Regions from separate parts of the Homo sapiens genome. Here regions 1, 2, 3, 4 and 6 are each linked to region 5. Evidence: fine-mapped expression QTL. A gene starts in region 5. Each other region holds a variant in brackets. All regions are shown on one strand. Distances are between the middles of the regions.

Evidence for each region.
Region 1: its variant is fine-mapped to the expression of ST6GAL1 in skeletal muscle (GTEx, PIP above 0.99).
Region 2: its variant is fine-mapped to the expression of ST6GAL1 in naive CD8 T cells (Schmiedel 2018, PIP 0.95).
Region 3: its variant is fine-mapped to the expression of ST6GAL1 in whole blood (TOPMed, PIP 0.96).
Region 4: its variant is fine-mapped to the expression of ST6GAL1 in fibroblasts (GTEx, PIP above 0.99).
Region 6: its variant is fine-mapped to the expression of ST6GAL1 in platelets (CEDAR, PIP 0.95).

What each region holds. Positions count from the first base shown.
Region 1 is chr3:186,990,145-186,995,218 of GRCh38, forward strand. The region is part of intron 2 of ST6GAL1 (ST6 beta-galactoside alpha-2,6-sialyltransferase 1); the gene reads left to right. LOC124906314 (a long non-coding RNA gene) reads right to left here and starts at 4,808. Exons shown (of 3, transcript XR_007096208.1): 1 at 1,496-4,808. RefSeq lists a silencer at 697-991. The variant G/T (reference allele first, on the strand shown) is at 3,166.
Region 2 is chr3:186,906,327-186,911,400 of GRCh38, forward strand. No RefSeq gene overlaps it. Among named protein-coding and RNA genes, the nearest start is that of ST6GAL1, 22 kb to the right of the region's middle. RefSeq lists enhancers at 2,607-3,302, 3,065-3,164, 3,235-3,284, 3,303-3,997. The variant G/C (reference allele first, on the strand shown) is at 3,062.
Region 3 is chr3:187,066,553-187,071,626 of GRCh38, forward strand. All of the region lies in intron 5 of ST6GAL1 (ST6 beta-galactoside alpha-2,6-sialyltransferase 1), which reads left to right. Among named protein-coding and RNA genes, the nearest start is that of RPL39L, 70 kb to the right of the region's middle. RefSeq lists a silencer at 209-258. The variant A/T (reference allele first, on the strand shown) is at 2,189.
Region 4 is chr3:186,879,533-186,884,606 of GRCh38, forward strand. No RefSeq gene overlaps it. Among named protein-coding and RNA genes, the nearest start is that of ADIPOQ-AS1, 21 kb to the left of the region's middle. RefSeq lists enhancers at 525-1,025, 1,026-1,526. The variant G/A (reference allele first, on the strand shown) is at 2,639.
Region 5 is chr3:186,928,180-186,933,253 of GRCh38, forward strand. It overlaps ST6GAL1 (ST6 beta-galactoside alpha-2,6-sialyltransferase 1), which reads left to right and starts at 2,347. Exons shown (of 8, transcript NM_173216.2): 1 at 2,347-2,655. RefSeq lists enhancers at 1,962-2,570, 4,664-4,713, 4,734-4,793 and silencers at 2,258-2,337, 2,578-2,767.
Region 6 is chr3:187,019,269-187,024,342 of GRCh38, forward strand. All of the region lies in intron 2 of ST6GAL1 (ST6 beta-galactoside alpha-2,6-sialyltransferase 1), which reads left to right. Among named protein-coding and RNA genes, the nearest start is that of ST6GAL1, 91 kb to the left of the region's middle. RefSeq lists a promoter at 2,134-2,711, a cis regulatory region at 2,618-2,711, an enhancer at 2,714-2,983 and a silencer at 4,950-5,039. The variant G/A (reference allele first, on the strand shown) is at 2,621.

The sequences.
Region 1 (5,074 bases), 62 kb after region 5:
TGCCTTGGCCTCCCCAGTGGCTGGGATTACAGGCACATTCCACCATGCCTGGCTAATTTTTGTATTTTCAGTAGAGACAGGGTTTCACCATATTGGCCAGGCTGGTCTCGAACTCCTGACCTCAAGTGATCTGCCCGCCTTGGCCTCCCAAATTGCTGGGATTACAGGTGTGAGCCACCAAGCTTGGCCTAAAGCTTCTCATCTCTATCTATTGAATGCAGGTGACTCATTTCCACCTGCCAGATTCTTAATGATCATTAGAGCGAGAGAAACTGCCCAGCAGCACAGCACTAGCATGTGTTCATGTTCAGTCCATGGTGTTAATATTTGTGATGATAGGCATAGACTATTGATAGACTTGATGACTATATTCAGTCATCTGTGGGTAGCTACTTGGTGTGAAGAATTCCTTGGCTGGGGCTGAGGAGAGTTCTCTACCTCACCTCAACCCCAGCCGCCTTCTCCCATCCCTCCCTCTTAGACCAATCCCTTCCTACAGGATGTTCTTTTTTTTTTTTTTTTTGATTTCCTCTAAAAAATTTCAATAAAGAAAATAAAGCAGGAGGTAGAAAGCAGGAGAATCGCTTGAACCCGGGAGGCAGAGGTTGCAGTGAGCCGAGATCGTACCATTGCGCTCCGGCCTGGTCAACAAGAGCAAAACTTCATCTCAAAAAAGAAAAAAAAAAAGGATATAAACCAGCTTCTGGCATTACCCAGGAGCAGCTGACCTAGATGCTTGTTCCAGTAAGTTCTCCTCACTCCCTCTCATGCTTGTCCGCCTCCCCACCTCCTCCACCCCTGCTTCCAGGCTGTCTGCAGACCGCTGGGCCGGGTTTCACAGTATTGGCGTGAATCAGCTTGCCAGGCTTCTACCCTTTGTGCTTGGTGGTAGCTAACTGACTTTTTTCTTTTTCTCATGTGGTCAGGATTTTTCCACTGAAGCATTTCTTTTATGATGTGGGAGAGACAGATAGCACCTGGCTAGTTGCCTTCTTTTGGACTTGCTGTGATTTGACTTTTCAGCCAGGCCAGGTATTTATTTTCCCTTGGGTGGAGTGTGGTTCTCCCAGAGATGCCTCATTCATGATTCATTTGTTCAGGGCATACAAAAGGCATTTCTTAGGACCTAACCTGGGCCTAGCGGTGTGGTAGGTGCCTGGGCTTCAGAGAAGGCTAGGATGGTTGCTAATTCTCTGAAAGGTCATGCCCTAATAGAGGAAACGGACATAGAAACTGTGAGGGGCGCTGTCTTGGGGTCTGTACAGGGTGCTGTGGGAGCACAGGGAAGGGTTCCTAACTCACACTGGGGATCAGGGAGGCTTTGGCTCCTGATACTAAATGACCTCTTATTTGATACACTTTTTATGTCAGACTTGCTGGTTCTTTCCACACATTGAGTCAAAGGGTGTCTCTGGTTCCTCCCTGGATGGACTGATACAGGCCATTTCACTCACTCTCCCAAGGGTTTATCTCCTCTGGCCTCTCCGAGTCTCACCTGGAGGTGTGTGTTCCTGTGGCGTGGGTTCCTTGGGAGCGTGGGTGATTCACCGGCTGGCCTCATCCCATACTGATCCTCTGGGGTGATCCCTATTCACCTTGTCTCCTTTGCTGTCATAACTCCACTGCTGGGGGCAGAGGTGGAGATGTTGAGCTTGTGGGCAGGAATAAGTTCCACTGAGCCACAGAGCTTGACTCTGCTCACCTTCCCACAATAGAACTCAGAGTTGGAATCCTTTCCCCAGCCACCTCCCCTCCCATCTGAGGACAGAGGGTAACCTGCCCGTCATCTCTGGGGTTATCTCCAATTTTCAGTCTCCCTCATCTCCAGCTGACCTCCCATATGGCCAAATCGATCCTGAGGTTGGGAATCCAGTTCTTCAAACTGAGCCCTTCAGACTCTGCTGTGGTACGTGAAAACAGTTTCAGTATCCCGCCATAAATACCTTCCAAAATTCTAAATGTAGTACATGACCATTGATATGGTTTGGCTGTGTCCCACCCAGAATCTCATCTTGAATTGTAATCCCCATATGTCAAGGGAGAGACCAGGTGGAGGGAATTGAATCATGGGGGCTGTTTCCCCCATGCTGTTCTCATGATAGTGAGTGAGTTCTCACAAGATCTGATGGTATTTTAAGTGTTTGGTACTTCCTCCTGCTGCCTTGTGAGGAAGGTGCCTTGCTTCCCCTTTGCCTTGCACCATGATTGTAAGTTTCCTGAGGCCTCCCAAGCCATGTGGAACTGCAAGTCAATTAAAACTCTTTCCTTTATAAATTACCCAGTCTCCGGCAGTTCTCACACAGAAGTGTGAGAATGGACTAATACAATCATGACCTTAAAAAATAAATAAATAAATAAATAAAACATGGCCGGGCGCGGTGGCTCCCGCCTGTAATCCCAGCACTTTGGGAGGCCAAGGCGGGTGGATCATCTGAGGTCAGGAGTTCAAGACCAGCCTGGCCAACATGGTGAAACCCCGTCTCTACTAAAAATACAAAAAAAATTAGCTGCATGTGGTGGCGGGCACCCATAATCTCAGCTACTCGGAGGCTGAGGCAGGAGAATCGCTTGAACCTGGGAGGCAGAGGTTGCAGTGAGCTGAGATCTCACCACTGTACGCTAGCTTGGGCAACAGAGTGAGACTCTGTCTCAAAAACAACAACAACAAATATTTGAGGCCTACTTTTTTGAGAACAGAAAAGCAAATTAGACGTGGTCCTTGCCCCTAAGGTGCTCACAGTCCACTATCTATCTAGGTCAGATATTTTCCACTGCTGGTCAGTGTTTATGAGGCAAACTGTTTACTAACTTGCCTAACACTGCCTGTCCCGTGCAGTTCTTCCTGGATTGACGGCAGCTAGATCCTGTGACAGAGGACAGCTGTTCCCCGCTCCCTCCCATCACTCCCCTCCTCTGTCTCCTGGCCATAGCTGTGGGCTGCAACTCTGACTTGAGTGTTTGTGTCCCTAGTGCGTTTAGCTTCGGGTGGGGGCTGCCTTTGCAGGTACTCGATAAACACCTGCATGGGGAGTTGAAATAACAAGTTCTTAAAGGAATCTAATTCGAGGGCACACTGCTGGTGGGCCCTGTTTGGTGGCCCTTGGGCTGAGCACATGCTTTGATAGTTCACTCTCAGAAACATCCAGTCTGGTTCTTAAGTGGCCA[G/T]AATGACCCGATGGAGTTAAGATTTCCCGTTTTTGGCATAGGGTCACCTGTACGTCTTTCATTCTAAACAAAAAAGTCAAGCATGTCTTGTCCTGTTCTCTCAAGCGTGTTAGCGAGATGGAAGACATAATGGTGGCCAGAGAAGCTGGAAGCAAAACTAAACAGAGGTGCAGATTTGCAGAAGCTACCCCTTGGCATCACGGGGTGCAGTTTTTCTCTGCTTCTCAGTTAGATAACTTGACAGAGTTTTATTTATTTATTTATTTATTTATTTATTTATTTATTTATTTATTTATATGTTTTAGAAAACTAAGAGGCCTAGGTAAATAACTGTGCCTTAAAGCCCTTCTTTCCAACCAGGAGTAGCAGCATGCTAGAAAAGAAAAGGGTGGGCCTGGGAAACTAGATTTGAATTTTGGTTTTGTCACTTTCTAGCTGTGTGGTCTTTCGAAAATCATTTGATTCCTCTGAGCTTCAGCCTCTTCACCTGTAAAATAATCAACCCACAGCATTACTCAGAAGATTTACAATAAAAGAGAAAACCTAGCACATTACGTTATGTAAGCGATACTTATAACAATGATGATAATGATAATAATCATCATCATAATAACAATTGAATGGTGGGCTCTCTGCTGCTGCATGTAGGTAGACATGGCTCTACTTCGTCATCAGAGAGGGTCTCTGTGGCCTGAAGCACTCGGCAGGCTCCTTGCCTTCCACATATTTCTATGTGTTGGGATGAGATTGTCTTCAATCCTTAAATATCAACTAGTAGAAGCCTAGTACAGCTTCACCTTGGAGGAGAAAAATATGTCGATTCAGCTCTACTCAGCAACTTTTTTAAAGTGGAGAGATTGAGAGAGAAAGAGAGAGTAATTGAAATAATGCCCACAGTTCTGACAGCCTCTTGATCAGCTGAAAGCCCACAAGTGCAGGTGGGGAGACATGAATTCGAGTTCTCTCAGTCTCTGTAGGGTGAGCAGCTTGTTGGTCCAGGTGTGATCCCAGTATTTAAATGTTTGTCTTTTTAGTGTAACATGGTAGTAAACTGAAGACAATTACTTCTTCTGGTGCACATCCTGATCCCTTTCAGGGCTGGAGTCTAACACAGCTGTGTTAGATTCACTGAGTGAATTTTATATGAGTGTTCAGGGCTGTATAAACAGACCATATATTCTGTATTTCATAGGTGATTCAAAGTGGGGGGACTTTTTGTTTGTTTAACTTTCATTTACTGCACATGAATAGTCATACAAAATAAGATGTTATTTTAACTGACTTCAAATTCAGCTGTTTATTTTTTCATTTTTGCTGTAGATATTTCAGTATGTATATTTAAAAGATAGAGACCCTTTAAAAATAGGCCGGGGCGCAGTGACTCACACCTGTAATCTCAGCACTTTGGGTGGCCAAGGCGGCCAAGGAGTTTGAGACCAGCCTGGCCAACATGATGAAACTCCGTTTCTACTAAAAACACAAAATTTAGCCAGGCATGGTGGGCGCCTGTAATCTCAGCTACTTAGGAAGCTGAGGCAGGGGAATCGCTTGAACCCAGGAGGCGGAGGTTGTAGTGAGCCAAGATCACGCCACTGCACACTCCAGCCTGAGCAGCAGAGTGAGACTCCCTCTCAAAAACAAAAAAAAAAGAGACCCTTTAAAAATAAAAACTACAAGATACTATTATCACATTCAAATAAGTAAGTAAGTAAGTATTCCTTAATACCAGATATGGAGTCAATATTCAATTTTCCTCAATTATTATATATATATGTGTGTATGTGTATATATTAGTGTTTGAGTGTATGTATATAGATATGGGTGTGTATAGTTTTAAAATAGTTTGTGTATTCAAATTAGGATCCAGATAAAATCCAAGTGCAATAGATTGATAAGACCTTTAAGATTG
Region 2 (5,074 bases), 22 kb before region 5:
GGTAGCTTGTATTTCTGTGGGATCAGTGGTGATATCCCCTTTATCATTTTTTATTGCTTCTGTTTGATTCTTCTCTCTTTTCTTCTTTATTAGTCTGGCTAGCAGTCTATCTGTTTTGTTGATCTTTTCAAAAAACCAGCTTCTGGATTCATTTATTTTTTTGAAGGTGTTTTTGTGTCTTTATCTCCTTCAGTTCTGCTCTGATCTTAGCTATTTCTTGTCTTCTGCTAGCTGTTGAATTTGTTTGCCCTTGCTTCTCTAGTTATTTTAATTGTGATGTTAGGGTGTAAAGTTTAGATCGTTCCTGCTTTCTCTTGTGGGCATTTAGTGCTATAAATTTCCCTTTAAACACTGCTTTAAATGTGTCCCAGAGATTCTGGTATGTTGTGTGTTTGTTCTCATTGGTTTCAAAGTACATCTTTATTTCTGCCTTAATTTCATTATTTACCCAGTAGTCATTCAGGAGCAGGTTGTTCAGTTTCCATGTAGTTGTGTGGTTTTTAGTGAGTTTCTTAATCCTGAGTTTTAATTTGATTGCACTGTGGTCCGAGAGACTGTTACGACTTCCGTTCTTTTGCATTTGCTGAGGAGTGCTTTACTTTCAATTATGTGGTCAATTTTAGAATAAGTGTGATGTGGTGCTGAGAAGAATGTATATTCTGTTTATTTTGGGTGGAGAGTTCTGTAGATATCTATTAGGTCTATTGTTCCAGAGCTGAGTTCAAGTCCTGAATATCCTTGTTAATTTTGTCTCATTGATCTGTCTAATATTGACAGTGGAGTGTTAAAGTCTCCCATTATTATTGTGTGGGAGTCTAAGTTTCTTTGTAGGTCTCTAAGAACTTGCTTTATGAATCTGGGTGCTCCCGTATTGGGTGCATATATATTTAGCGTAGTTAGCCCTTCTTGTTGCATTGATTTCTTTACGATTGTGTAATACCCTTCATTGTCTCTTTTGATCTTTGTTGGTTTAAAGTCTGTTTTATCAGAGACTAGGACTTCAACCCCTGCTTTTTTTTGCTTTCCATTTGCTTGGTAAATATTCTTCCATCCCTTTCTTTTGAGCCTATGTGTGTCTCTGCACATGAGATGGGTCTCCTGAATACAGCACCATTGATGGATCTTGACTCTTTATCCAATTTGCCAGTCTGTGTCTTTTAATCGGGGCATTTAGCCCGTTTACATTTAAGGTTAATATTGTTATGTGTAAATTTAATTCTGTCATTATGGTGCTAGCTGGTTATTTTGCCTGTTAGTTGGTGCAGTTTCTTCATAGTGTCGATGGTCTTTACAATTTGGTATGTTTTTGCAGTGGCTGGTACCGGTTGTTCCTTTCCACATTTAGTGCTTCCTTCAGGAGCTCTTGTAAGGCAGGCCTGGTGGTGACAAAATCTCTCAGCATTTGCTTGTCTGAAAAGGATTTTACTTCTTCACTTATGAAGCTCAGTTTGGCTGGATATGAAATTCTTGGTTGAAAATTCTTCAAGAATGTTGAATATTGGCCCCCATTCTCTTCTGGCTTGTAGGGTTTCTGCTGAGAGATCCGCTGTTAGTCTGATGGTTTTCCCTTTGTGGGTAAGCCGACCTTTCTCTCTGGCTGCCTTAACATTTTTTCCTTCATGTCAACCTTGGTGAATTTGACGATTGTGTGTCTTGGGGTTGCTCTTCTGGAGGAGTATCTTTATGGTGTTCTCTGTATTACCTGAATTTGAATGTTGGCCTGCCTTGCTAGGTTGGGGAAGTTCTCCTGCATAATATCCTGAAGAGTGTGTTCCAACTTGGTTCCATTCTCCCCATCACTTTCAGGTACACCAATGAAACGTAGATTTGGTCTTTTCACATAGTCCCATATTTCTTGGAGGCTTTGTTTGTTTCTTTTCATTCTTTGAAAATACTATAGTATTAAATAATGATAATTATAACAAATCTTGTCTTCTCACTTTATTTCATTAAGTTCATCTTCAATCTGTGATATCCTTTCTTCTGCTTGATTGATTAGGCTATTGATACTTGTGTATGCTTCACGAAGTTCTGGTGCTGTGTTTTTTAGCTCCATCAGGTCATTTATGTTCTTCTATAAACTAGTTATTCTAGTTAGCAATTCATCTAACCTTTTTTCAAGGTTCTTAGCTTCCTTGCATTGGATTAGAACATGCTCCTTTAACTCGGAGGAATTTGTTATTACCCATCTTCTAAAGCCTACTTCTGTCAATTCGTCAAACCCATTCTCCGTCCAGATTTGTTCCCTTGCTGGCAAAGAGTTGTGATCCTTTGGAGGAGAATAGGCATTCTGGTTTTTGGAATTTTCAGCCTTTTTGTGCTGGTTTATCCCCATCTTCATGGATTTATCTACCTTTGGTCTTGGATGTTGGTGACCTTCGGATGGGGTTTTTGTGTGGACATCCTCTTTGTTGATGTTGATGCTATTCTTTTCTGTTTGTTAGTTTTCCTCCTAACAGTCAGGCCCCTCTGCTGCAGGTCTGCTGGAGTTTGCTGGAGGTCCACACCAGACCCTGTTTGCCTGGATATCACCAGCAGAGGCTGCAGAACAGCAGATTGCTGCCTGTTTCTTCCTCTGGAAGCTTTGTCCCAGAGGGACACCTGCCAGATGCCAGCCAGAGCTCTCCTGTATGAGGTGTCTGTCGGCCCCTACTGGGAGGTGTCTTCCAGTCAGGATACACAGGGGTCAGGGACCCACTTGAGGAGGCAGTATGACCCTTATCAGAGCTCGAACGCTGTGCTGGGAGGTCCACTGCTCTCTTCAGAGCCATCAGGCAGGGACGTTTGAGTCTGCTGAAGCTGCACCCACAGCTGCCCTTTCCCTCAGGTGCTCTGTCCCAGGGAGATGGGGGTTTTATCTGTAAGTCCCTGACTGGGGCTGCTGCCTTTTTTTCAGAGATGTGCTGCCCAGAGAGGAGGAATCTAGAGAGGCAGTCTGGCTACAGTGGCCCTGCTGAGCTGCGGTGGGCTCCACCCAGTTTGAACTTCCTGGCGGTTTTGTTTACACTGTGAGGGTAAAACCACCTACCCAAGCCTCAGCAATGGCGGATGCTCCTCCCCC[G/C]ACGAAGCTTGAATGTCCCAGGTCAACTTCAGACTGCTGCGCTGGCAGCGAGAATCTCAAGCCAGTGGATCTTAGCTTGCTGGGCTCCGTGGGGGTGGGACCCTCTGAGCTAGAACACTTGGTTCCCAGGCTTCAGCCCCCTTTCCAGGGGAGTGAACGGTTCTGTCTCGCTGGCATTCCAGGTGCCTCTGGGGTATGAAAAAACAACTCCTGTAGCTAGCTCAATGTCTGCCCAAACGGCCACCCGGTTTTGTGCTTGAAATCCAGGGCCCTGGTGGCATGGGCAACTGGAGGGAATCTCCTGGTCTGCAGGTTGCAAAGACCATGTGAAAAGCACAGTATCTGGGCCAGAGTGCTCTGTTGGCCACGGCACAGTCCCTCACGGCTTCCCTTGGCTAGGGGAGGCAAATCCCCCGACCGCTTGTGCTTCCTGTGCTTCCTGGGTGAGGCTACACCCCACCCTGCTTTGGCTCGCTCTTCGTGGGCTGCACCCACTATCCAACCAGTCCCTGTGAGATGAACTGGGTACCTCAGTTGGAAATGAAGAAATCTCCTGCCTTCTGCATGATCTCACTGGGAGCTGCAGACCGGAGCTTTTCCTATTCGGCCATCTTGCCAGCACCAATTTTTTTTTCATTTTCAGTAGAGGCGAGGTTTCCCCATGTTGGCCAGGCTGGTCTTGAACTCCTGACCTCAGGTGATCCACCCGCCTCGGCCTCCCGAAGTGCTGGGATTACAGGCATGAGCCATTGCGCCTGGCCTATCATAACATTTTTAATATCATATTATAGTATTAAATAAAGATAATTACCATTATTATAACAGCGAACATCTATGCACTACTTGCTGGACACTGTGTCAAGCACTTTAAATGCATCGTAATTTCTGGCATATTAATTTATTAATCATATTAAGTCTTCAAGTTCCTTAACCTCAGGGTATGGGAGGTAAGAGAGCAGTAAGGTTCATAGTTTTTCTTTTTCTTTCTATTTATTTATTTATTTATTTATTTTTGAGATGGAGTTTCACTCTTGTCTCCCAGGCTGGAGTGCGATGGTGCGATCTCAGCTCACTGCAAACTTCGCCTCCCGGGTTCAAGCAATTCTCCTGCCTCAGCCTCCTGAATAGCTGGGATTACAGGCATGTGCTACCACGCTCAGCTAATTTTGTATTTTTAGTAGAGATGGGGTTTCTCCATGTTGGTCAGGCTGGTCTCGAATTCCTGACCTCAGGTGATCCTCCCGCCCTGACCTCCCAAAGTGCTGGGATTACCAGTGTAAGCCACCGCATCCAGCCTATTTATTTGTTTTTTGAGAGTGAGTCTCATTCTGTAACCAGGCTAGAGTGCAGTGGTGTGATCTCGACTCACTGCAACCTCCACCTCCTGGGCTCAAGCGATTCTCCTGACTCAGCTTCCCAAGTAGCTAGGATTACAGCATGTGCCACCATGCCCAGCTAATTTTTGTATTTTTAGTAGAGACAGGGTTTCACCATGTTGGCCTGGCTGGTCTTGAATTCCTGACCTCAAGTGATCCACCTGTCTCGGCCTCTCAAAGTGTTGGGATTACACGTATGAGCCACCATGCCCGGCCAGGTTCGTAGTTTTTAAAGTTTGGAAGATACGAGTTCCCATCCCAGCTTCAATCTATGCGAATTTAAACAAGTTTCCCATTTCTCTTGCTCAAAAAAATGGTTGTTGGGCTTTTTTTGTTTTTTAACCAAAGTGATAACATGATATCCAGAAAAGTAGAAAGAAGAAAACAATAAATTACCTCCATATCCCACCATTTAGAAATAAAATTAAAATTTGTGAGCATGCTTATAGATATTTCCAAGTGGATTTGTATGTTAGAATGATACATAAATAAATTCAAAACTAATAACCTAGGATTATATTCTATATTCTGTTGTTTAAAAGTGAAAAAAGAGGTCCTGACGCAGTGGCACACACACCTGTAATCCCAGCAGTTTGGGAGGCCGAGACAGGTGGATCAGGAGTTCGAAACCAGCCTG
Region 3 (5,074 bases), 140 kb after region 5:
AAAGTCCAAAATATGCACAGTGGTAATATCTGAAGATGTGCGTGCGTGCGTGTGTGTGTGTGTGTGTGTGTGTGTGTGTTTCTATTCTTGCATTTTCTAACTGTCCCCAGTGAGTATTTGTTACTTTCTAACTGAGAAGGTTACTTTAAACAGTGTCTTGAGCAGCAGCACTCCATGCCCTGGTGTAGCCTTTTCCTGGCAGATGTTCCCCAGGGCTCTGCTGCTCTGCCAATGACTTATTCTCAGCATGAACTCCTCCCCTGCCCCCTAAGAGGATCTCCAAACCCAGGTCACACTCCCCCTGCAGGTAAGTACAGGCGTTTGAGAACAGCTTTATTCTTCCAGGAACAGCTGGTCCCCTCAGCAGGGCCTTACAAGGTGGTTATGTCTAAATAAGGCACCTGAGGCCAGGAGATGTGACATGGTCCATCTAATACCATGGAGTGAGTTAGACACAGAGCAGGACTGGAACCCATGCTTCCAATTCCCCATCCAGTTTTAAGGCAATCTTCTTTTCTTTCTTTCTTTCTTTTTTTTTTTTTTTTTTTTTTTTTTGGAGACAGAGTCTCTGTCACCCAGGCTGGAGTGCAGTGGTGCGATCTTGGCTCACTGCAACCTCTGCCTCCGGGGTTCAAGCGATTCTCCTGCCTCAGCCTTCTGAGTAGCTGAGATTTCAGGTGCCCGCCACCACGCCTGGCTAATTTTTGTATTTTTAGTAGAGACGAGGTTTTACTATGTTGGCCAGGGTGATCTCGAACTCCTGACCTCAAGTGATCTGCCCACCTCAGCTTCCCAAAGTGCTGGGATTACAGGTGTGAGCCACTGCACCTGGCAAGGCAACCTTTTTTTTTTTTTTTTTTTTTGGTAGAAAATCTTTGAACTTCATATAGATGGTGTTAATGTGGGTGAGTTCAGAGCCATGTGTAAAGTTCCAGGAGGGGAGTGCTTGCTGGCTTCTCCCTTATCCCTCAACCAGATCCCAGCCCCAGCCACTTTCTGTTTCTCTTCTCTGGATAAAACTATCATTCATCTTCACCTGTTTCTATTTTCATGGATTACTGTCTCATTCATCTCAAGTAGCTCAAGTGAATGGCTGTTTTTCCATTGGATACAGGAAGACTGAGGGTGACCTGACCCTCATGGTGTGCTTGCTTATTTGAATGTCTGATGGTTTTATGGGTGTAGTCCTGCTGGAGCAGAAAGAATATCTGTTAGGAGCCTGCCTCTGGGCTCTGGTTCTAACTGTGCCACAAACTCATCGTAGCCTTAGACAATTCTCTTGTCTCTCTGGGCCTCAGTTTACCCATCTGGAAAATGATGGGTCTGAATTTAATACCTTGAGTATCATCCAGCTGTGACATACTACAACTCAGGCAAGAAGCAAATTCTCCTGACACTCCATACTCCTATCCAGTGTTCTCTGACGTCCTTCCCCAAGAGCTGTGGTACCCTACCCTGCCCACATTATGTGAGGCATTATAGCACATAGGTTAGAAGTGTGGTCTCTGGGCCGGGTGTGGTGGCTCATGCCTGTAATCCCAACACTTTGGGAGGCCGAGGCAGGTGGATCACGAGGTCAGGAGATCAAGACCATCCTGGCTAACACAGTGAAACCCCATCTCTACTAAAAATACAAAAAATTAGCTGGGTGTGGTGGCACATGTCTGTCGTACCAGCTACTTGGGAGGCTGAGGCAGGAGAATCACTTGAACCTGGGTGGCGGAGGTTGCAGTGAGCCAAGATCGTGCCACTGCACTCCAGCCTGGGCAACAGAGCGAGACTCCATCTCAAAAAAAAAAAAAAAAAAGAAGTGTGGTCTCTGGAGCTAGACCTAAGAATCCAATTCAGACTCTCTTACTTACTGACTGTGTAATTTGGACAAGTTACTTAGCATTTAGCATCTCTATTTCTTTAATCATAAAATGAACATATTAACACTTACTTCCTAGGGCTGTTGTGAAGATAAACTGAGTTGAGGTATGACAGTACCTAGCATGTAGTAAGCATCATTAAATGGTGTCTGTTGTTTTCACATATTGTAAAGAAGAAAGCTTCGTGCATCTCTTGGAATTTCTGAGGACGGTGAAGCCACAGCTGGGAAAGTCTCAGGGAGCCAGGAGTTGCTGGCCTCCTGCTTTGCATACTCAAAATTGCTGGAAAGGGGCTATAGCAGGGGGAGACATTTTTT[A/T]AAAATCCCAGTTATTGCTATTCCTCATGAGTATGTATATATCACCTGGCATCAGTACTCTGCATAGAAAGAAGCATAGCTAAAGAAAAGACACTTTGCTTTTAATATAACAGCTGTTTTCAGGGGAATAGGGTGGATGAGGATAGGGAGTACTGGCCCTCTGTCCTCAGGCCTCCCTGTCACCAGCTCAGTCACGTCTATCTTACAAATCCCCATCTAGCAGGAAGCCTGCTCTGCCCTTGGACTATAGACCTGAAGGGCTGTTGTTAAGTTACAACGTTCCCAGTGGAAGGAGGACAGTACTTAAAAGTTACAAGATGTGGGTTCTGTTCTTAGTTCTTATGGCCTGTCAGCCAGGGAACTCCTGGCCAGTAGTCTCATCCTTGAACTTCTTCTTTTTTTTTTTTTTTCTCAAGACGGAGTCTCGCTCTGTCGCCAGGCTAGAGTGCAGTGGCACGATCTTGGCTCACTGCAACCTCTGCCTCCTGAGTTCAAGCTATTCGCCTGCCTCAGCCTTCCAAGTAGCTGGGATTACAGGTGCTTGCCACCACGCCTGGCTAATTTTTGTATTTTTGGTAGAGACAGGGTTTCGCCATGTTGGCCAGGCTGGTCTTGAACTCCTGACCTCAAGTGAGCCCAGCCCTCATCCTTGAACTTCAAATTTCCACCCCACCTTACTCCCACAGGCATATACCAGTTGTTCCTTTTTCTCTGTTCTTATGCAGGAAATGGCCTGAGGTCCAGGAGTCCCCTTGGTCCCCTTTTTCCCTCACTCTCAACATTCAATTAGTCTTCACATCTACAGCCGACAATTGTAACTTCTTTTCTTTACTCCATTATTTCTTAGGTGACAACAGGAGCTTCTTTGTGGTCTTCTTTTTTCTAAAAACACTAATTCAGAACTCTAGCATGTTTAGATCTTCCTTACTTAAAACCCTTTCCTGGTCCCCATAACCTACTGAAGAAATCCTAAGCTCCCTGGCTTGGCCTCTGTCTACATTTCTCTGATCTCTTCCAGCTCTTTCTCTGTATCCTAGCCATACTGAACTACTTGCAATTCCCAAACAGGGTACACACTGTACTAGTTGTTCCTGCAAGAGACAGGAACACACATCCCCCCACACTAGCTTAACAAAACAAAAAATGCATTTCTCTCTCATGCAAAAGAAGTCCAAAAGTAGACATTCCAAACTTAATATGGTGTTCCAGTGTCAGAATCCAAGTTCTTTCTACTTTGTGGGTTTGCCGTTCTCAGCATATGACTTCCACTTTATGGTCCAAAATGACTGCTCAAGCTCCAGCCATCACATCCACATTTCAGCCAGGAGGAAGAAGGAACAAGGAAAGGCATAACCTTGCCTCTAAGGATAGTTCCTGGAAGCCACACTTGCTTACATTCCATTGGCCAGAATTAGTCACCCAGCCATATTTATCTATAAGAGAGGCTATGAAATTTTTTTATTTCAGGGAGTCTATTTTAGGTTGCCATGTGCAAAAGTAAAAACCAGAGGTGTTGGTGGTCAAGGAAGAAATAGCGAATGGATGCTGGGTAACATCTGGCAGTCTCTGCCACACACTCACACATTCAGGGGTTTGCACGTGGTTCCCCGTGTCTCAGACACCCCCTCTCTCATGCTTACAGTCTCTGCTTGGCATCTTCTTTTTTGCCCCCTAACACTTGCTCTTTTTTTTTTTTTTTTTTTTCGAGATGGAGTCTCACTGTTGCCAGGCTGGAGTGCAGTGGTGCAATCTTGGCTCACGGCAACCTCCGCCTCCTGGGTTCAAGTGATTCTCCTGCCTCAGCCTCCCGAGTAGCTGGGACTACAGGCACCCGCCACCATGCCCGGCTAATGTTTGTATTTTCAGTAGAGACGGGGTTTCACCATGTTGGCCAGGATGGTCTCAATCTCTTGACCTTGTGATCCACCCGCCTCGGCCTCCCAAAGTGCTGGGATTACAGGTGTGAGCCACCGCACCCGGCCCAACACTCGCTCACTTTATGGCCATCCTCATACTACCTCTGTTGTTGCACCATCACAGCGTGTTAACCATTGTTCAATTGTCCACCTTTCCCACTACCCTGTGACCTCCTGGAGGGCAGGGACTGTGTCTTTCCTTTGGCTCCTTAGCACCCAGTATAGCTGCACAATCTCCAGCCAAGGTAGACCGACCACCAATATTTCTTGTCTCAAAGATATATTGAGGAAATGAGAGTATATTCTTCAGGCTTCCAGGAACTTCCTTACATCTGTAGGAAGGTATGGGCATGGGGATAGCTCAGTGATTGTAGAGGCTCGTGGCAGATTGCTTGCTATTCTTTGGGTTGCACACAGGCCGTCTCTCTTGCCATAGTTTTTTCCAGATACTGCAGTGACATTGATTAGGTCTCAGCCTTGGCGATGTAGACTGAGGTGGAGAGGGATTATTGTCATGATTCTTGCTTTCGTTTCAGTCAGTTCTTGATTTGATTTCTGCCATTTATTCCTCTCAATTTTTACCTGGGCAACATCATCTCCCGCCTGCTTTTTAAGGTGAATGTTGACAGCTGATTTCATATATTAATTCTGGCTTTCTTAAGAGGGACATGGCTCCCTTCATTCTTAAGCCTTTGGGGCTACTTTTCTTTCTCATTCACTCATGATCTCCATTTGATCCGCAAGACAGCTCATATTTGAGAGAGCAGAGCAAATGTGTTATTCCCATTTCACCGATCAGAAAATGAGGGCCGGCCGGGCGCGGTGGCTCATGCCTGTAATCCCAGCACTTTGGGAGGCTGAGGTGGGCGGATCACGAGGTCAGGAGATCGAGACCATCCTGGCTAACAAGGTGAAACCCCGTCTCTACTAAAAATACAAAAAAACCCCCAAAAAATTAGCCGGGCGTGGT
Region 4 (5,074 bases), 49 kb before region 5:
GTCCATTTTTCTTTTTGCAATTTACAAGCAATAGTTTTTGCATCCACCAATGATCATTTGTTCCTTTTAAACCCACTAGATTGGCAAAAATTTTAAAAATCTGATAATACCAAGGGTTAACATAAGTGTAAAGTCATTATTAATTGCTGGTAGGAGTGTAAGTTGATCAAATCACTTTGGAAATCCATTTCATATTATCTGCCAGAGCTGAAGAGGCTTATAGTTTACAATCCATTCTATCTTCCACCATTTTAAGAGAAACTCTCACGCAGGTGTACAAGGAGACACACACAATAATTTTTATAGCAGATTGTTTTGTAAGAGCAAAACTTGGAAACAACCCAAATGTGCATCAAAAAAGGAATGAATAAAGTTTTATATAGTCAAACAATAGGATACTGTAAAATAGTAATATTGAATGGCCTAAAGCCACAAACATCAGTCTGATGAATCTCACAATCATTACACACACACACACACTCTCTCTCTCTAGGAGGAAACATGCAAGGCTTTTGATAAAGATGCTGAAATTAACACATGTATTTGCCTCTGCTGTTTCTCCAAACTCCACTAAAACAACAGCAAATTTTTTTAAAAAGCATAAATGTTTGCACAAAAGCAAATGAAGAAGAGGGTAGACAGGGGCAATAACAACTTGCAGGCATAACTAATGATAATGATTTAGCAGACTGAAAAAGTTACTCTTAAGCTGGCAGGGAAAATGCAAAGAAGTACTATATATGTTTCCCAAAACACACAAAAGTTTCAGGAATTGGCAGCACCAAGTATCTCTTGCAATAGGAGTAAATATGGGCTTAAAAAAGACAAGTTGGTTTCAATTCTACTCTAAACCTGCAGCATGATGACTGTCCCTCTCTAGTCTGGCAGAAGATTGAGAGGGTAAAACAAAGGGCTCGGGTGTAGGACTGGAAAAGTGGTGGTTATAGCACTAATTTAGCATTGGACAGGTAGGGTGCTGGATCCTAGGAGGCCTGTGAAAATAGCTTAGGTATTCAACAATGGGTACAGCCACGGAGGCCTACACAGATTCAACAGATTGGTAGAAAGGAGGAAACAAACATAACAGAAATGCAAAGAGAAAAAGAAGGTACAGTGAGAGTGAGTGAGAGAGAGAATGATTTGCAGATGTGAGGTAAGATTTCAGAGGTGAAGTTCTAGTGATGACCAAGCCCTTGGTTTCTCTTCGAGGAAATCTTGCTGAGAAACATGCCCCTAAAAACAGCTTTGATGCCTTGTGATTAGGGGCGATGGCTTTCATTATTTTCCTCCACTCTCAATAAGCGCCAACAGAAAAAAGCTACTCCAGAATCTTCTTTGTTGCAATATGAGGCAGAATGAACAAAATTGCAACAGCTACTGTTATAATAGGAAGCAACATGGTGTAAGATGTAGTTTTAACAAGTAGAAGAGGCCCTGGTGCATCTGATTTGCCCTCTCTGAGTGCCAGAGCGTTAGCTACCATTGTCAGGAAGCCTGTCTCGTGCGTCTTGACTTTCCCAACATCTAGAGGACTTCTTTAACCTAATGAGATGAAGATGAGCTGAGAATGACATCTTGAAAAGATCTGAGCCAGTAGTTTTCCAAGCGGTTCTCAGACCAGCAGCATCAGCGTGGGAACTTTGTAGAAATGCAAATAATTTGGGATCTATCCCAAACCTATCGAATCAGAAGTTTTTGGGGTGGAGCCCAGCAATATGTGTTTTTAAAAGCTCTTCAGGTAAGCACACCAAGGTTTGAGAATCACTGACCTGGATGTAATTTTTTATAATTTTTTTAAATTTTTTTGAGTCAGAGTATCCATCACCCAGGCTGGAGTCTAGTGGCGCGATCTCAGCTTACTGCAACCTCCGCCTCCTGGGTTCAAGCAATTCTTGTGCCTCCGCCTCCCAGTAGCTGGAATTACAGATGCACGCAACCACACCCAGATAATTTTTTTTTTTTTTTTTGAGATGGAGTCTCGCTCTGTCACCAGGCTGGAGTGCAGTGGTGCAGTCTTGGCTCACTGCAACCTCTGCCTCCCAGGTTCAGGTGATTCTCCTACTTCAGCCTCCTGAGTAGCTGGGATTACAGGCATGTGCCACCGTACCTGGCTAATTTTTGTACTTTTAGTAGAGACGGGGTTTCACCATGTTGGTCAGGCTGGTCTCGAACTACTGACCTCGTGATCCGCCAGCCTCGGCCTCCCAAAGTGCCAGGATTACAGGCATGAGCCACCGCACCCAGCCAGTTTTTGTATTTTTGTAGTGATGGGGTTTCACCATGTTGGCCAGGCTGGCGTCGAACTCCTGACCTCAAGTGATCTGCCCACCTCAGCCTCCCAAAGTGCTGGGATTACAGATGTGAGCCATCGTGCCCGGCCTAGATGTAATTTTTAGTCAACTTAAGCATGTGTAACCATATGCAATTATGCGCAAACAGTATAAATAGAGCTGATGTTAATCTCTAGCCCCGTTGCCTGGAGTGTTGGTGAAACTCTTTTATTTTGTAATCCTTTTTATATTTTAGTGGATGTTTCTATTGATTCTCTTCTGTACCCGCTGTTTCCTCTTTTATTGGAAGACACTAAAACAATTCAGAAATTTTTATAGGAATGCAGAGGATTCAAAATGTCTGAGTC[G/A]TGCTCTTCCAAAGCAAGAATCATGTCATAGCCATCTTTTTTTTTTCTTGTAAGAGCTTTATTGAAATATAGTTTACATACCACACAATTCACCCGTTTAAAGGAATCCCCTCTCCTGCCAGTCAATGCTTTTTGGGTTTCACAGAATTGTGAAACCATCAGTACAACCAATTTTAGACGAATTTTATCATCCCCAAAGGAAACCTCATACCTATCAGCAGCTACTCCTCATTTCCTCTGAAATCCTCCAGTCTTAGCTTTTACTAATCTAGTTTCTGTTCCTATAGATTGCCTAGCCTGGACATTTCATGTAATGCATTACACTATGATGTTTCACGACTGGCTTCTTTCACTTAGTATAATGTTTTGAAGGTTCATCCATGTTATAGCATTTACCAGTACTTTATTTCTTTCAATTGCTTAATACTCCCTTATGTGGATACACAGTAGTTTCCTCTTATCTGGGGGGCATATGTTCCGAGTTCTCCAGGGAATGCTTGAAACCACAGATAGCACCAAATCCTATATATACTATGTTTTTTTCTATATATAGATACTTAGGATAAAGTTTAATTTATAAATTATAAGATAAAAATAGAAATAAAAATAAATTAGGCTCAGTAAGATATTAACAACAGCAATAACTAAATAGAACAATTCATAAAAATATGCCAGCATCACTGCTTTTGTGCTTTAGGGCCATTATCAAGAAAAATATGGGTGACTTGAATACAAGAACTGTGATACTGTAACTGTCAATCTGATAGTTACTAAGTGACTAATGGTGTTATAGAGAACATAGATGCACAGGACAAAGGGATGATTCACTTCCTGGGAAGGATGGAGTGGGATGACATAAGATTTTATCATGCTACTCAGAACAAGACACAGTTTCAAACTTTTTTTTTTTTTTTTTGAGACAGCGTTTCCACTCTGTCACCCAGGCTGGAGCACAGTGGCTCAGTCTCTGCTCACTGCAACCTCTGCCTCCCAGGTTCAAGCAATCCTCCCGCCTCAGCCCCGCAAGCAGCTGGGACCACAGGCATGCGCCACCATGCCTGGCTACTTTTTGTATATTTTGTAGAGATGAGGTTTCACCAAGTTGGCTAAGCTGGTTTTGAACTCTGGGCCTCAAGTGATCTGCCTGTCTTGGCTTCCCAAAATGCTGGGATTACAGGAGTGAGCCACTGCACCTGGCCTGCACAATTTAAAACTCATAAATTGTTTATTTCTGGAGTTTTTCATTTCACATTTTCCCAATGCAATTGACTGTATGTAACTGAAACTGCAGAAGGTGAAACTGCGGATGAGAAGAAGCACTACTGTACTACATTACATTTGTCCATTCATTAGTTGATGGACATTTGGGTTGTTTTCACTTTGGGACTATTATGAATAATGCTGCTAAGAGCATTTGTGTACAAGTTTTTGTGTATGCATATATTTTCATTTCTCTGGGTATACATACACCTAGGAATGGTAACTATGTTTAACATTTCGAAGAACTACCAGGCTGTTTTCCAAAGTCACAAGACACGATTTCAAGATTTTTCTTTTTCTTTGAGACAGATTCTCCACTCTGTCACCCAGGCATTGTACCATTTTACCTTCCTGGCATCAGTGCATGAGAGTTTCAGTTTCTCTACATTCTCATCAACATTTGCTCTTATCTGTCTTTTAAATTATAACCATCCTAGTGGGTGTGAAGTGATATCTGATTGTGGTTTTGATTTGCAGTTCCTTGAGAACTAATGATGTTGAGCATTATTTTTGTGGTTACTGACCATTTGTGTATCTTCTTTGCAGAAGTGCCAATTTAGATTCTTGCTTTTATTTGTTTATTTAGTTAGTTTTCAAGACAGAGTCTCTCTCTGTCTCCCAGGCTGGAGTGCAATGGCTTGATCACGGATCACTGCAGCCTTGTCTTCCCAGGCTCAAGCAATCCTCTTGCCTCAGCCTCCCTAGTAGCTGGGACTACAGGTGTGTATCACCACGCCAGGCTAATTTTTGTATTTTTTGTAGAGACAGGGTTTTGCCACGTTGCCCAGGCTGGTCTCAAACTCTTCGGCTCAAGCCATCTGCCCATCTTGACCTCCTAAAGTGCTGGGATTACAAGGCTTCAGCCACCACTCCCAGCCTGCTAAGAGTTTTATGGTTTCACCTCTTATGTTTAGGTCTTTTATTTTATTTTATTTTATTTTTTAATTGATCATTCTTGGGTGTTTCTTGCAGAGGGGGATTTGGCAGGGTCATAGGACAATAGTGGAGGGAAGGTCAGCAGATAAACAAGAGAACAAAGGTCTCTGGTTTTCCTAGGGAGTGGTGATGACTCTTAACGAGCATGCTGCCTTCAAGCATCTGTTTAACAAAGCACATCTTGCACCGCCCTTAATCCATTTAACCCTGAGTGGACACAGCACATGTTTCAGAGAGCAC
Region 5 (5,074 bases):
GACCTCATGATCCGCCCGCCTAGGCCTCCCAAAGTGCTGGGATTACAGGCGTGAACCACCGCACCAGGCTGTTCTTAGTTCTTAAGTAATGTTGACATATGGGTGATGATGAAGGAGATGATTAAAGCTTTCAAAGAAAGTGGAAGAATGTGTCAAATTCTCTCTTCACTTCCTAGATGACTTCAGTTTCCTAATCCATAAAATAGGACTAAGACCATTACTTATCTGATGAAAAGGAGAGACAATGTAATAAATAAGGTGCTTTGAATCCTGTATTAGTCCATTGTCACACTACTGAGAAAATTATAAATTACCTGAGACTGGGTAATTTATAAACAAAAGAGGTTTAATTGACTCACAGTTCCATATGGCTGGGGAGGCCTCAGGAAACTTATAATCATGGTGGAAGGTGAAGGGGAAGCAGGGCACATCTTACATGGCGGCAGGTGAGAGAGAGAATGCAGGGGAAATGCCAGACACTTATCAAACAACCAGATCCCGTGAGAGCTCCCTATCACAAAAACATCATGGGGGAAACCGCCCCCCACGATCCAATCACCTCCCAGGAGGTCCCTCCCCTGACACATGTGGATTACAATTCAAGATGAGATTTTTGGGTGGGGACACAGAGCCAAACCATGTCAGATCTCCAAATGGTAGCTATTATTTAGATGTCCTTTTCTTCTGTCTTGTTACAGTCACTGACACAGTTCAGGCTCTTATTATATCTCCATTGATGTCAGCTTCCAATCTAGTCTCTTGCATTCTCTGCTTCTGCCATCTATTTTCCAGTGTGGTGCCAGAGGAATCCTTGTAAAATACAAAGATGCATGTCATGCTACTGCACAGAATCTTTTAATAGCCTCCTTTTTTTTTTTCCCTTTTTCGAATAGGGCCTAAAATCTTCAATGTAGCATCCTTCCAGAAATAGTCTTCTGAACTTGGCTGCTTCTATTCATTCACGCATACATACATTTTACTGTCAGGAGCACCTTCTATATGCCAAACACTAAGCTACGTGTTTCACGTAGGTCATTTCACAGGATCCTGAAAACAACGCTTTCCTTAATATCTCCATTTTGCAGAAGAGGAAAGGGAGGCTCACAGGATGTGGAACTCACCCAAGAAGGCACAGCGAGTTGGTCATAAAGATTTGAATTCACTCTGGCTGGCACTCCCTTCAATTGGAGCTCTTTGTACTGAGCAAAAATGCCTCAGGGGCAGCAGGGAAGGGAATGACAGTATCAGCAGAAGGGAGCCAGGATCAGGACAGGGAGGAAGCAGTGTTTGGAAGAAGGGTGCTGGGGACAGGGTGCGGATGTAACTTCCCTTTCCAAGGTTGGTGATGTGGGGTAGGCACCTCATTTGGAGACAGAACTCTGGGCCTGGGCTTCAGGCACTTTAAGTGTGCACTGGACTTTGTGTTCCCAGAGGACCCCCAAACCTTCCAGTATCTCCTTCCTTTCCCCTTTCCCACCCAGCACACAGCCTGGTGCCTAGTGTGCACTCAGTAGACAACTGGGATATGACTATTGCCTCTGGTAGTCACATCCTCTCTTTGGGCTATGGGAGGCTGGACTGGAGGCCTTAAAGGCCCCTTCCGCCCTCCTGTTGGGCAGTTTTTCTTTCTTAGGGAAATCGCCTTGGGGCTATCGGGGATGGTCAGTACGCAGCTTGGTTAATCCTCTTTCCTTCCCCAGCAGCCCCACCGTCGTCCGGGTGAAAAGAAAGAACCTCGCTCCCTTCACCATCCAGGCTGAGGCTTCAGTCTTTCAGCCTGCAGCTTGGGGTGGAAGCCTCTGGGTGCAGGGGTTCGAGGACGCTCCTCTCCTTCTGTATTTGCCATTTGAGAGCGCCCAGTAGGAGTCATGCCTCAATGTTAGGAGGTTAATGCCAAACGCAGTGAAAGATTTTGTTCTTTCCTATTCTAGATAAGAGCAACACGAGTCTTCGGAGAGGTTAAGCGACTTCCTCAGGGTCTCGCAGTCAGCCGGTAGCAGAGACCGGGTGTACAGCACCCGCATGTTAGGACCAAAAGCCGGACACTGCTGGATTGACCCCTCGCGGCCAAGCGGGGAAGAGGCATTTAGGGGTCCTTGCGCAGCCGCGTGGCCCCTCCCACTCGGCCCTCGATCCACCCTCCTTGAGAGCAGGCAGGATTCTAGCATCACCCAGTGCCTTCATCAAGAGTCTTTAACCCCAAGCCCGCTCGCTAGCGACCTCCAGGCCGGTTTGGGGCGCGGTGTGGCCGGTGGCGAGAGGTGGAGTGGGGGCGGAGACCGACCCAGTCTTCGCAACTCTATTTGCATACGGAGGCGACTCGCTTCCTTCCCGCCCCTCCGCCGCGCTCTTCTTCCTTCCTTCTCCAGTCCCTTCCACTGTGCGTCTTCTGTCCCCCGTTCTTCCCCAGCGGACCCCTCTTTCGAGACTCCCTAGTGGGGTCCCCAGCTCCCGGGCGATCCTGCCCTTGCCGAGCGCGTTTTCTGGAGTCACCTGGGGGAGGGGAGTCCTGGGCAGGGCCGGGCTGGGGAAGACGCCTGGGGCACTGCCCGGCGTTAACAAAGGGAGCCGATACCGACCGGCGTGGGCGCGGAGCGGGCGGCCGCCACCGAGCGTGCTGAGCAACCGCAGCCTCCGCGGCCGAGAGTGCAGCGAGTGAGTAGGGGGTGCGGTGGGCGGCGGCGCGGCCCGGGCTATCCCGGGAGGAGTGTGATGCAAAGGGGCGCGGGAGGATAGCGGAGGCGCGGGGCCCGCGGCGCGCGTAGGGCGCAGGGAATCTCTCTCCAGCTCCGCCTCAGCTGCCTTGGCTCCGGGGCTGGCCGCCTTTTGGTTGGGGGTGTGTGCATTTTTGTCAGGGCCAAAGGGCCACCCTGGCTTCTCTCTGGCTCCGCGAGCCTGCGGATCCACAACAAACCCACGTGCGCACAGCCCCGGGGAACACGGATTTCTCCACGGCACCGTCAGTATGGGGTGGGGTGGCGTGGGGGCATTGCGCCTTGCAGAGTCTGGGTTTACGGATCGACAAATTGAGGCCCGCGGCAGCGGAGGGGGCACAGGCACCATAACAAACGCACGTGCGCCCTGCCCGGAGAGCTGGACGCACTGCATACCCTTAGGGGCCGCCCTGCGGTGCCGGGCCATTGTCTCAGCCTCGGGGGAGGGAGTGGCTCTAGAGGCGCCACTTGCTGGAAGAGGGCGAGAGAGACATTTAAAAGGTACCGCTTGGGCATCAGACTAAACTGCCAGACTTAAAAAGGGAAACCAAAACAAGAAAGCAGCTACAAAAAGGTTACTCCAGGCTGAGTCGGTCCCCGGCCGTGGCGCATTCTTTTGGGTGAAGTGGACCACCCCTCACCTTCACCTCCTGGAGGTCTCTTAGAGATGTGGGTTGGGTTAAGGGTCTAAGGGTGCCCCTCAAAAAAAGAGAGTGCTGGGTGCACTATTGTCCCCGCACTCCGGCGATTGCCTCTGTGGGGATATTTTGGTCGCCTCCTCAGCCTGCGGGAAGAATGTACGAGTCGCCCAGTGCGGTCTTGCTCTTTGCCTCTGAGGCCCGTGTCCGTGTGCCCAGACACCCCAGATGTCACTAGCCCCTTTTGGCTTGTTAATGCATTTTCGCAAGCAAGGCCAGCCGAGACCTCGTATTCTAGCTGGGGACGTACAATTTTCAGTTCTGAGTTTATTTGAAAGAAATTCCGAGGTCCGGAAAAAGAGAACTCTTGTTTGTTTTGCTTTTTCTTTGCTTACATATGCTCAGCTCAGCTTTGCAGATGTTAATCGGACACGATCTGCAGCGGGGAGATGGTTTCGCGGTGAATTGGTCTCTGAGGCGATGGTGTTGGTGCAGGTTGTGGGCGTGCAGTGTGAGCAGGAATGGAGGCGCCGCCGCCCCAGTGTGTGCCTGCTGAGCGGGCGGGCTGCTGCCTCACCTTGGCTAGTGTGGCTGAAGATTAACCTGTCCCCGGGGGGGGAACTGGAGAGCCTCCAATCCTATTCCGCTGTTATTGAAAAGGTCTAGAGAGCATCTAGGGAGCCTTCTCATTTTACAGGCAGGAAGCTGAGGCCGGAGAGTTCAGCCACTTGTCCAAGTTTAAACCGGGTGAAACGGGCCACAGAGAGAACACTTGAGTGTGGGTCTCCCAACTCCCACTGCATCGCTCAGCGGGCAACTAAAGGCAAAACCGGGATTCTGTGATTGGCCTAAAAGGCAGTGGCCTTAGGCAGAATAGGGTGAAACAAAGAGTAATTCAAATAGAAAGCTGCACCCTTCCATTATCCCTTTCAAGAATTCTTTATTCTGTTGAGAAAAAATAGATTTAGTAATTCCTTACTCTCCTTCAAGCCTTTCAAAAGCTTAGTTATTTTTCTCTCCTGGCTGCCCCTTCCCCTCAAATTGGAATAAGGCCAGCTACGGAGACTCAGATGTTTTGCCTCTCATCCTTGTGCCAGGAGGCCTTTGTTTGGGCAAAAGCATGGGCTGTTGACATCAGCCCCACGGGGAAGAAAGTGTGTCTTAGCAAGCTACTCCTGAGCCACTTGTGGGAGAACAAAGCATTGTTTTCACTGATCTTATTAAAGTTACTTTTTTTTTAACGAGAGTCCCATGGAAGTAGCTGCTTATTTTTGTATTTGGCAGAGAAGTAGGAAAACCAAAAAAACACTGAGAAGCCGGATTTCCCCAAAGTTAACATGTTGTTTTGCACTGTGCCTGTTATCTCCTAGTTACACTTGTTTCTTTTCCTTAGAGTTTCCAGCGTGTTTCACTTTCAATGTGATTCTGGTAGCAACAGGAGGCAGCTGGATGCCTAGGCAGATAGGGTCAGGTACCCGGTGAAACCCCCACCTCCAGGCCAAAGACAGTTTAAAGCCTGAAAGCCAAGCTACGAGTTAAATCCTCAGACCAGAGTGAGAACTTGTTTGGCGTGCTTTCCCCTAATTGATTCCTACATTTCGCCTGTTTTACATATACCCACTTTTTCCTAATTGGTTTTCTACGCTGCCGTGCCCACCTTTGAGTGGTGTCTTTGCTTTCATCTTTTTTGCATACTCACAAACCGGTCAGCATGCACTCCCT
Region 6 (5,074 bases), 91 kb after region 5:
GAGATATGAAAAATCTATAGCTGAATATTCTGTTGATGGTTTTAAACCATAGAAATAAATATTCAGGAAGTCTCTATTGAGTAGCTCTATAGGGTAATGCTAGCTGCTAGAGCAAATAAACTCACGTCTTAACCATCTTGGCCCAGAAGTGATGTATGTTATTTTTGCTCACATTTCTTTGCCAATAACTAGTAAAATGATCCCATCTATATGCTGTGTGTGTTTGTGTGTGTGTAAAATGCAATCCCTCTCTGGACAGTAATTTACAGCAATAACTATATGGCAGAAGGAGCAAACTTCTTGTGGGGCAGCCAGCTATCCCTGATATGAGGAAAGAGAAAGAAGGGTCAGCATTAAGTGGCAGCTCAGGTGGCACACATTAAGAATCCAAGCTCTTAGAGAAATGGGAGTCCTTCATGGGAGAGGGTTTCTGGCAGCCAGGACACATGGAGCCCCTCTCGGAGGCACTATGCCACCCTCTGGGGGCAACAGGGTGTCAAGCACTCTAAGTCTAAGAACAGAAAGTTTGGGTTCTAAGGTCCAGATGAGGGTGAGGTTTGTGCACTAAAGATTAAGGAGATGAAGATCAGGGCAGAGTAAATAGGTGTCACCAGAAGGTCAATACAGTGATTAGCAACTGTAGTTGGTGTGATAAAGCAGAGAGGCTCGCAGTAGCCCTTGGAAGGGCCTGAGTAGAGGGACATAGGATGAAGAGCACTACCAGTTTGTTGGTTAGAATAATCTGGTCAGCCGGGCATGGTGGCTTATGCCTGTAATCCCAGCACTTTGACAGGCTGAGGCGGGTGGATCACGAGGTCAGGAATTCAAGACCAGCCTGGCCAAGATGGTGAAACCACGTCTCTACTAAAAATACAAAAATTAGCCGGGCGTGGTGGCGGGTGCCTGTAATCCCAGCTACTCGGGAGGCTGAGGCAGAGAATTGCTTGAACCTGGGAGGTGGAGGTTGCAGTGAGCCGAGATTGCACTGCTTCACTCCAGCCTGGTAACAGAGCGAGACTCTGTCTCAAAAACAAACAAACAAACAAAAAACAAAACACACCGTGGTTTCACCATTTACAGTGACATCTTGAGCAAATGACTTAAACTCTCTGAGTTTCAATTTCTTTATTTAAAAAAGAGGATTGTTAATACCCCACCCCACAGGGTGGTGGTAAGAATTAAATTTGGTAACATCTATAAGACCTGCTGTTCATTACAGTTGATTCTTAAGGCAGCATCCGGTGATGCCTTTGAAACATACATCGGCAAAGTCTTAATCAGATGAAAGCCAAAACCCCTACACCTGTGTAAGGCGCCACATTATCTGGCTGCCCCTGTGTAGGTATTTTGCTGTTCCCTCTACTTGCAACCCTCTTTTCTCAGAAATCTGCATGGTAGCCTCCTTCATCTCTGTTAACAGAAAAACCAAATTCTGTAAAATATTTTCAAGAAGTTTATCCTGAGGCAATATGAGTTACTGTAGCTTAGAGAAAACACAAACCCAAGAAGCCTTGAGTGAGTGGCCCTGAGGCAGTTGGGCCATAGTCTGGTTTTATACATTTTAGGGAGACAGGCATTACAGGCAAGGATATCTGGAAATCAGTACATGGAAGGTAACTGGTAGTTCTGTCCAAAAAATGTGAGACATCTCAAAGTGGGGGAGGGTGCGGTGTTAGGATATATGTATTGGTGGTTTTTTTTTTTGTTTTTTTTTGAGATGGAGTCTCGCTCTGTCACCCAGGCTGGAGTGCAATGGCGTGATCTCTGCCCACTGAGCCTCTGCCTCCTGGGTTCAAGTGATTCTCCTGCCTCAGCCTCCTGAGTAGCTGGGATTACAGGAGCATGCCACCACGCCCGGCTAATTTTTGTATTTTTAGTAGAGATGGGATTTCACCATGTTGGCCAGGATGGTCTCGATCTCCTGACCTCGTGATCCACCTGCCTTGGCCTCCCAAAGTGCTGGGAATACAGGCGTGAGCCATCATGCCTGGACTATGTGTTGGTTTCCATGCATGTTTCCTGGCGCATAGCCCCATAGCCCTTGCTACAGTCTTGCTAGAATGCTGGGCTTTTTAGACTTCAGGGACAGGCCCTAAGAAACAGTCTCTCTCCTGCCGTCCTTTCACCTGCCCCAAGGCAAGGTTTTTATGTTTTCTGGCCTGACTGTGGGCCTTACAACCCTCCCATGAGGCCAGGCATAGTGGTTCATGCCTGTAATCCCAGCACTTTGGGAGGCCGAGGTGGGTGGATCACCTGAAGTCAGGAGTTCGAGACCAGCCTGACCAACATGGTGAAACCCCGTCTCTACTAAAAATAGAAAAATTAGCCGGGTGTGATGGTGGGCGCCTGTAATCCCAGCTACTCGGGAGGCTGAGGCAGGAAGAATTGCTTGAACCCGGGAGGCAGAGGTTGCAGTGAATCAAGATCATGCTACTGCACTCCAACCTGGGCGACAGAGCGAGACTCTGTCTCAAAAAAAAAAAAAAAAAAAAACCTTCCCATGAGAGGTTCCTACCCTATGCCCTGGGGGAAGAAATGCTGACGTCAAGGAAGCTTCTATAAAAACCCAAGAGGACAGGGTTGGGTGAACTTTCTGATAGCTTAATAGGAGGAGGTTCCT[G/A]TAGGGCGGCACAACCAGGGAGGGCGTGGAAGCTCTGCATCCCTTCTCCCATACCTTGCTCTACACATCTCTTCATCTGTATCCTCTGCAGCATCCTTGATGATAAACCAGTAAATGTAAGTAGGGTGTTTCCCTGAGTTCTGTGAGCCGCTCCAGCAAATTAATTGAACCCACGGAGAGGGGAACCCCAATGGAAGCTGGTTGGTCAGAAAGAAGTTCTGGAGGCCTGGACTTGTGACTGGTGGAGGGGGGATGTCTTGGACACTAAGCCCTCAATCTGTAGGATCTGACACTATTTCCAGGTAGATAGTGTTGGAACTGAATTAGAGGACACCAAGCTGGTGTCGCTGCTTGGTGTTGGGGTGGGACCCCCACACATATGGTCACATAAGTCATCTTCTGTGTTGATTGTTGTGGTGTGAGAGCAGAGGAAAGATGGCTACAGAGAGTTTTCCCTACACAGGGACTTGGGGGGTAGAGGGTTAGGGGAGGGCTGAGGGGCCTTACAAGTCTTAAGTGCGTTTTAGGGATTCTTTAGCTAACAGTAGCTGAGAGAGTCAAGTTATTGTCTAGTGACTTGAAGTCAGTAGGAAGGAATGCCTGAGTAAGATAAGGAGGTTGTGGGGGCCTAGGTCCTTGGAGCCTCATAGATAGCAGCCCTCTGGGTGAATAGATAGTGATTGTCTCTTCTCAGACCTTTGGGTGTCTGACTCTCAGTTAGAATCTCTCCTAGATCTGGGAAAGGCCTAGCAAGGGAAGAGACATTAATATCGATTCTCTGGAGATGCACGTTTCCCCCACCAAAGATGGCTTTGCAGTCCAAAGGCTGTCTGGCAGCCTTTTCCAAATATGTCAAAGAAATGTATTTTGGGGCAAAATATTTTAATTTCCTTCAGAGTCTGCTGTCTGTCATGTGATACTATACCAGAGTCAGGTTGGAGAGTAAGCCACATTTTACTGGGTTAATTAAAAAACCCATTTAATGAGACTGTATTGTTTCTAGGGTATGACTTAATCTTTGCCTTTTATGGCCTTAGGTATTGTGTATAGTTTGGTATCTTATTGTCATAAAGGGTCTGTTTGGTCAGTCTTATAATCTCTATTTTACCTTAATGCTGGTCACTTGTACCTAAACCCCAAAAGGGAGGGGTATGATGAGGGTGTAACCTCCTTTCTGTCATGGCTGGGAATTCAGTTTTTCAGGTTTCTCTGGGGTGCCCATGGCCAAAAAGGAGTCCATTCAGTTGGTTAGTGGGGGGCTTAGGATTTTATTTTTGGTTTACACCTCCTTCCAACCCTTGCTCAAATGTCTTCTTCTCAGTGAGGCTTTCTCTGATCATCTGATTTAAATCTCCACCTCACCCACTCCAAGCTGTCCCTATTTCTCTTCCCTACTCTAATTGTCTGCATATCAGTTATCTCCTTGCAAAGCACCACGGATTTATGTTGTTTGACTCTTTATTTATCCTCACTATAAGGTGAGTGCTGGAGGGGTTAGGGATTTCTGGCTGGCTTCTCTACTGCTGTGTCTGCAGTCTGGTTCACAGTAGGCAATCAGCATTTGCTGAAAGAATGAACCTATAGCTTGGAACCAACCCAAATGTCCAACAATGATAGACTGGATTAGGAAAATGTGCACATATACACCATGGAATACTATGCAGCCATGAAAAATGATGAGTTCACGTCCTTTGTAGGGACATGGATGAAGCTGGAAACTATCATTCTCAGCAAACTATGGCAAGGACAAAAAGCCAAACACCACATGTTCTCACTCATAGGTGGGAATTGAACAGTGAGAACACATGGACACAGGAAGGGGAACATCACACACCGGGACTGTTGTGGGGTGGGGGGAACGGGGAGGGATAGCATTAGGAGATATACCTAATGCTAAATGATGAGTTAATGGGTGCAGCACACCAACATGGCACATGTATACATATGTAACAAACCTGCACGTTGTGCACATGTACCCTAAAACTTAAAGTATAATAATAATTAAAAAAAAAAAAAAGAATGAACCTATCGCATGAGTATTGGTGTAAGTTTTCTTACAGGCCCCGGGGCCACCACAAAGTAGAAGAACTCAACCTTCCCTATTCATTTCCTCACCTCCAACTCCCTTAGACTACCAGGACTTAGATCCTTTTGGGTATATATATACATATATATGTTTTATATATATACATATATACATGTTTTGCTTGTTTGTTTGTTTTTTGAGACAAAGTCTCGCTGTGTCACCCAGGATGGAGTACAGTGGCATGATCTCTGCTCACTGCAATCTCCGCCTCCAGGTTCAAGTGATTCTCCTGCCTCAGCCTCCTGAGTAGCTGGGACTACAGGTGCATGCCTCCACGCCTGGCTAATTTTTTGTATTTTTAGTAGAGACGGGGGTTTCACCATGTTAGCCAGATGGTCTTGATCTCCTGACCTCGTGATCTGCCCGCC